Regions from separate parts of the Homo sapiens genome. Here region 1 is linked to region 2. The links come from fine-mapping of genetic effects on gene expression. A gene starts in region 2. The other region holds a variant in brackets. All regions are shown on one strand. Distances are from middle to middle.

Evidence for each region.
Region 1: its variant is fine-mapped to the expression of DOK3 in whole blood (INTERVAL, PIP 0.99).

Annotation. Positions count from the first base shown.
Region 1 is chr5:177,676,320-177,679,229 of GRCh38, reverse strand. All of the region lies in intron 1 of LOC107986489 (a long non-coding RNA gene), which reads right to left. Among named protein-coding and RNA genes, the nearest start is that of B4GALT7, 78 kb to the right of the region's middle. The variant G/C (reference allele first, on the strand shown) is at 1,237.
Region 2 is chr5:177,508,511-177,511,420 of GRCh38, reverse strand. DOK3 (docking protein 3) reads left to right here and starts at 1,595. Exons shown (of 6, transcript NM_001308236.3): 1 at 1,595-1,663; 2 at 1,764-1,946; 3 at 2,879-2,910. The coding sequence starts at 1,881. RefSeq lists an enhancer at 1,190-1,339 and a silencer at 1,470-1,609.

The DNA of each region.
Region 1 (2,910 bases), 170 kb before region 2:
TTCAACTTTAAATCAGCAATTCCACTTCTAGAAATTTAACTTAAACAGATAGATATCTGGTCCAAAGTACAAAGATGTATGTGCAAGAATGTTTAAAGTAGCAAGATAATACTGTAAACATCCTAAATGTTCATTATTTGGTGTCTTGTTGAATATGCAAGCAATGTAATACTTTGTAAATGTTAGCTATTCATATAGATTTCACTGTTACTGAAAAAGATGAACAGCATAGGAGAAAAAAGTCAACGTATATGAACACAGTTTAAAGAAAAAGCTACAAATAGCCAATGAGCACTTTAAAAGTGTCATAACTTCACTCATAATGAAGTAAAGGCAATCAGGACAAGATACCAACCTTAAATTATTGGATTGGCAACAACTAAAAAGTCTGATAACCAGTGCTTGAAGAATTTGGGGAAATAAGCACTCCCAAGTGCTTTTGTTGATACGTTATTTGGTGCAACCTTTCTGGATGACAATTTGGGAATTTCTATCAATATGTAAAACACACATCTTCTAACCCAGTCCCCCATGCTTAAGAATTTCCCGGGTCAGGTGCAGTGGCTTACGCCTGTAATCCCAGCACTTCGGGAGGCCAAGGCAGGCAGATCACGAGGTCAGGAGATCGAGACCATCCTGGCTAACAGGATGAAAGCCTGTCTCTACTAAAAATACCAAAAAAAATTAGCCGGGCGTGGTGGCGGGCGCCTGTAATCCCAGCTACTCGGGAGGCTGAGGCAGGAGAATGGTGTGAGCTCGGGAGGCAGAGCTTGCAATGAGCCAAGATGGTGCCACTGCACTCCAGCCTGGGCGACAGAATGAGACTCCGTCTCAAAAAAAAAAAAAAGAATTTCCCTGCAGATATGCTGGCAAGACTTCTTAGAAGCTCAAAGATGTTGTTGTAACATAATTGGTAATAGTAATAACAAAAATACACAAAAACCCTAGAAACAACCAAAATATCCATGATAGAAAACCAATTAAATAAATTATGGCACAGCCTAACAAATGACTTTTTAATGTAAGCTGTTAAAAAGTGACAGATATGTTTACCCTGCAGTTAGGAAATAATGCCCATGATAAATTACAAAAGGCAAAGTAAATAACTGTACAGTGTGATTTTTATGGTGTGTTAGAACAGATAAGTATGTGTAGTAAGTAAGTATGTTTTGAAGGATTTACAAGAAACTAATAAAGGTATTTAGTGTTAGGAGGAAGAACTAGGAAAGAGAGGGT[G/C]GCTTTCAACTTTCACTTTTCATTTTGTAAGTTTTGGTAGCAAGAATTTACTGAACTCACAAGATGTTTCTTTTAGTTTTACAAACTGTTCAATGAGGGATACCAAGAATGGGAGAACGTGGTATATTTTTTTGCTTGCTTCTTTGTGGTTTTCTATATAAAAGCAAATACGCTATTTTAAAATATGAGCCAATAGACAATATGGATACTATAGATCCATGTTCACTGACACAGAAAACCATAAGGACATATTAATTTAAGAAAACCAACTGTGATGCAATATGCATAGTCTGATCCCATTTATGTAAAAATTTTGCACATGTGAGTATCGGCCATTTAGAGATATCTGGAAAGATGTTATCAAAATATGATGGAGTTACACATTCTGCTTCGTAACCTTTCTCAATTGCTTTAACTTTCTCAAATGAGGATTCTTCAAACATAGGGAATGAAACAAAATTTTTACAAAGGCCTTGATATCACAGCAAATTTGAAGATGGGAAGGAAGCAGGGAGAAAGTATAAGAAAATGATTTAAATAAAGTTATGTAAACTGAGAGGCCGCCTGCTGAAGCAATCCAGTGGAAAAGCTAAGAGTGCCCTGAAACTGGAAGATTAGACCTGGAATCCCACAGAAGGGACAGAATGTTCCCTAGAGCAGGGAGAAACTTGAGCTAGCTGGCTTTAGCATAAACAAAAGCGGGTCTGCAGGCACTGACCCTGCCATGTAATGAAAAATAGAAAAAAGAAAAAATATTTTAAAGATGAATAACCACCAAAAAAAAAAAAATCCCCATTAATAAGGCAGGAAGCTTTGTATTTAGAATGTTTTTACCACAAATGATGGTTTCAAATCTCAATAGCAGGCTGCGTGCGGTGGCTCACACCTGTAATCCCAGCACTTTGGGAGGCCAAGGCAGGCGGATCACGAGGTCAGGAGTTCAAGACCAGACTGGTCAACACAGTGAAACCCCGTCTCTACTGAAAAAAAAAAATACAAAAATTAGCCGGGCATGGTGGCGTGCATGCCCAGCTACTCCCAGCTACTCGGGAGGCTGAGGCAGGAGAATCGCTTGAACCCAGGAGGCGGAGGTTGTGGTGAGCCAAGATCGTGCCACTGCACTGCAGCCTGGGTGATAGAGTGAGACTTCGTCTCAAAAATAAACAACTCTATACCAGAGCAGATATGTTATTCGATAAAGCTAAAAATGTATTTAATTTTAGTAAGTACACATGAATTCAGGTAAATACACAGAAGCAGCTCTAGAGGAATAAACATAACAGCACTGAAAAGGGGGAATTGCGAATCTGGATGGGGGAGGTGGCAAAAGGGGCCTTTAGCCTTGTCTGTAATGCTTTTAAATTTTATAAAAGAAAACCATGCACATAGTGTGTTCTATTTTGGTAAAATAGACGTAACACAAAATTTACCATTATAACCATTTTAAATATACAATTTGGCGGCATTAGTTCATTCACAAAGTTGTGCAACCATCACCACCATCCATTTCCAGAACTCTTTGTCATCCCAAGCTGAAACTCAATACACATTAAACAATAACTCCCCATTCTCCCCTTCCCCAACCCCTGAAAAACCATTATTCCATTATCTGTCTCTGTGAATTTGCCTATTCTAGGTACTTCATAAACATGGAATTGTATATTTGTCCTTTTG
Region 2 (2,910 bases):
CCGAGCTGGTGCCCGCCTCTGGGGACTCTGGGTCTCTCCACTGGGTTGTCTGAATTTATGACTCAAGGAGGGACCACATTGGCGGGCCAAGGAGAAGTGCTTGGATTCTCTGGTCTCCCTGGCCAGCTGTCATAGCTCTCAGGCCCACTCTTCCTGTCAGGGCTGTGATGTTTCAGGGACTTCTCCTGAAGCCCCTTGGGAGGCTGCTTCTTGCCTCAGGACCCCCACCCACTGCCTGCCTGTGCCAGCCACCTGGAGGGAGCCCTCCATTCCGTTGACTGAGGAGGCAGCAGATGTCATAGAACTGCCATTTAGGCCACAAGCTCTCCCTAAGCCTGCTCTGTGCCCAGCTCTGCTGAGCTGTGAGGACCTAGATGGGCCAGGGAGATGGCTGCCTGGGAAGCCGTCAGGCGAGGGGAGAGAAAGACGCACACGCAGAAACGTGGACGGCAGTCACAAGACCGCTAGCAGATGAGGCAGGATCTCAGCATCTGGTGAGAGGTAGGCAGGGACGGCACAGGCGGCCACACTTCCTCTGAGCCAGGCACTTTGCATGTATGGCCACATGCTCATTCCAGTGAGACAGCGGTTGCTCAAGCCATATTTGTCACTTGATATGTGGCATTGGGCAAGTTACTTAATTTTTCTGAGCACCGATTTCCTCACTGTTGAAATGGCGATGAGAACGCAAAGGATGTGGCGTCTGAGGTGGACGGAGCTTAGGGCTGCTTGGGCCACAGTGGGCACAGAGCTGGGTGCCAGGAGGCCTTCAGGACATATTTCCTGGCCAAGTGCATTCCCAAATGGCATTCCTTATCCTCTTCCATGTTCTCTCCCAGAGGTGGTGCTGAATGACCTGAGGCTGTTCCAGAATAAAGGTATACACACAGCCCCGCTATTGGCATCTTGCTAGGCAAGCCAACAAAAGGCGCCCCCAGCAGGAAGCAAAGCTTTAAATGAACATGTGACCTCTCCGGGGCCCCCTGGGACCTGCCACCCACACTCACGTGGTTGGGGCCATTCAGGGCTGTGGGTCCCATGTGGACTGGATGCCCAGCGTGAGTGTATACCGTGAGGGCCTTTGAGCTCTCGGACAGCGTGGAGTGGTCAAGGGAGGCCTCCAGGAGGAAGAGGTGGCCAACCGCCCCAGGCAGCACAGTGGTGAGGGGGCCCTGGAGGGGCTGGCCTGGGGGAGATGCAGGCCAGAACACACAGGTCCCTGAGTGTTGGGCTGAGGAGCCTGGGCTGCACCCCAGGAAGGGGAGAGACAGGTTGGTCTTGGGTTGTGGAGAGTGCTGCATGGAGGCCCAGTGGGGCAGTGGCCCCTGGGGGGATGCCAAAGGCTGGTGATGTTCAGTGGCTCGTGAGGTGGAGAGGAGCAGGTGAACACGAGAGAGATTTCAGGGAGAAAGAAAAGCAGCAAGATGGGGTGAGGCGCTCAAACCAGGACGCCGAGTGGGAAAGCCAGGAGTTGGCTAGAGAAGGGTCCTGGGTGGAGGCAGGGCCAGGGAGTGTCAGGCCCAGGGTGCGCAGCTGCCCGGGGCGGGACGGGGGAGGGGCGGGAACTCATGACTCGGGGAGCCAGACTGCGATCAGACGCGCGTGCCCAGCTGAACCAGGTGCGTGAGAAGGCTGCCTTCAGGTGGCCGGGGGCTCCCTCCAGGTAGGTGTGGGCACCTTGGGCAGCCAGAACCCCAGGGAGGAAATACATGCTGCCCCCAGCCCCTGAGCTGAAGACAGGCTCCCCTCCCCCCGGCCTGCAGCTGTCTCTAGACGGAGGGACGGGAAGTGGCCAGAAGGGGAAGTGTGAGGAGTTCCCGTCCAGCCTGTCATCAGTCTCCCCAGGTCTTGAAGCGGCGGCCCTGCTCCTGGCCGTGACCATGGACCCTCTGGAGACCCCTATCAAGGATGGCATCCTCTACCAGCAGCATGTCAAGTTTGGCAAGGTGGGGACCCCTGGCTGCCAGGCAGCTGCCAAGGACCAACAGTGGGTGGAGAATGCAGCCTCTGCCCCTGCCTCGGACAGCCCAGGCAGACCTGGGAGACTTGGGAAGGGAGTCAGGGTGGAGGATCCCACCCAGGTATGGGGAGTGGAATGGAGTGCGGGTGTCAGCCTGAGACGGCAGGGGCTGAGCAGGCTCTGCCAGACCCTGCCTCCGGGAGAGATGGGAAATACAGGAGTGGGAGAGGGTCGAAGGCTCAAACCTCCCAGCAGGGAAGAGCTTCACAGCCTCTGACCCATGAAATAGTGCCACCGAGGGCCCTAAATAGGGTGAGGGGCTGAGCTGGAGGAGGCCTCAAGGGTGGAGCCCCTCCCTGCAGCGGCACTGTCCTGGGAGCAAGGAGGCAGGGGGTCACCTCTCCTCGGCAGCAGCCCCACACCCCCGCAGCTCAGCTGCAGCTGCTGCCCAGGCAGATAAACCGTCAGTTTCCTTTGCTCGAAGCTATTTGCATGTTTCCTTCCTTAACAGCTTGAGGCAGAGGCCTCCCTCCCACCCCAGCTCTTGGCCTGTGGCCCAAGTGCCCCTTTTTGGGGGTGAGAGGGAACCAATATAATGGCAGTGTCTGGTGGTCTGCCCGGCCACTGGATGCTTTACAAACATGACCCAGTAGCAGTCCCAGCTCGAGTTCTCATGGCCTTTTGAGAGACGACATTGATGCTTGTGGAGGTCACAGTTAGGAAAGAGCGGGCTGGGATTTGAACCCAGGGCTGACCAATCCCAAGCATAGCCAAGGCCTCCTTACCTGGCTCCCTGAGAAACTGGGGAGCAGAGGCCCGCTCCTGGCTGGGAGCGTTTGCCGAGCAGCTTGTGCTGAGCCAAGTGGCACGGACAATCTGCCACCCAAGGGTCTTCACCCTCCCGCTCCCCTCCCGCAGAAGTGCTGGCGGAAGGTGTGGGCTCTGCTGTA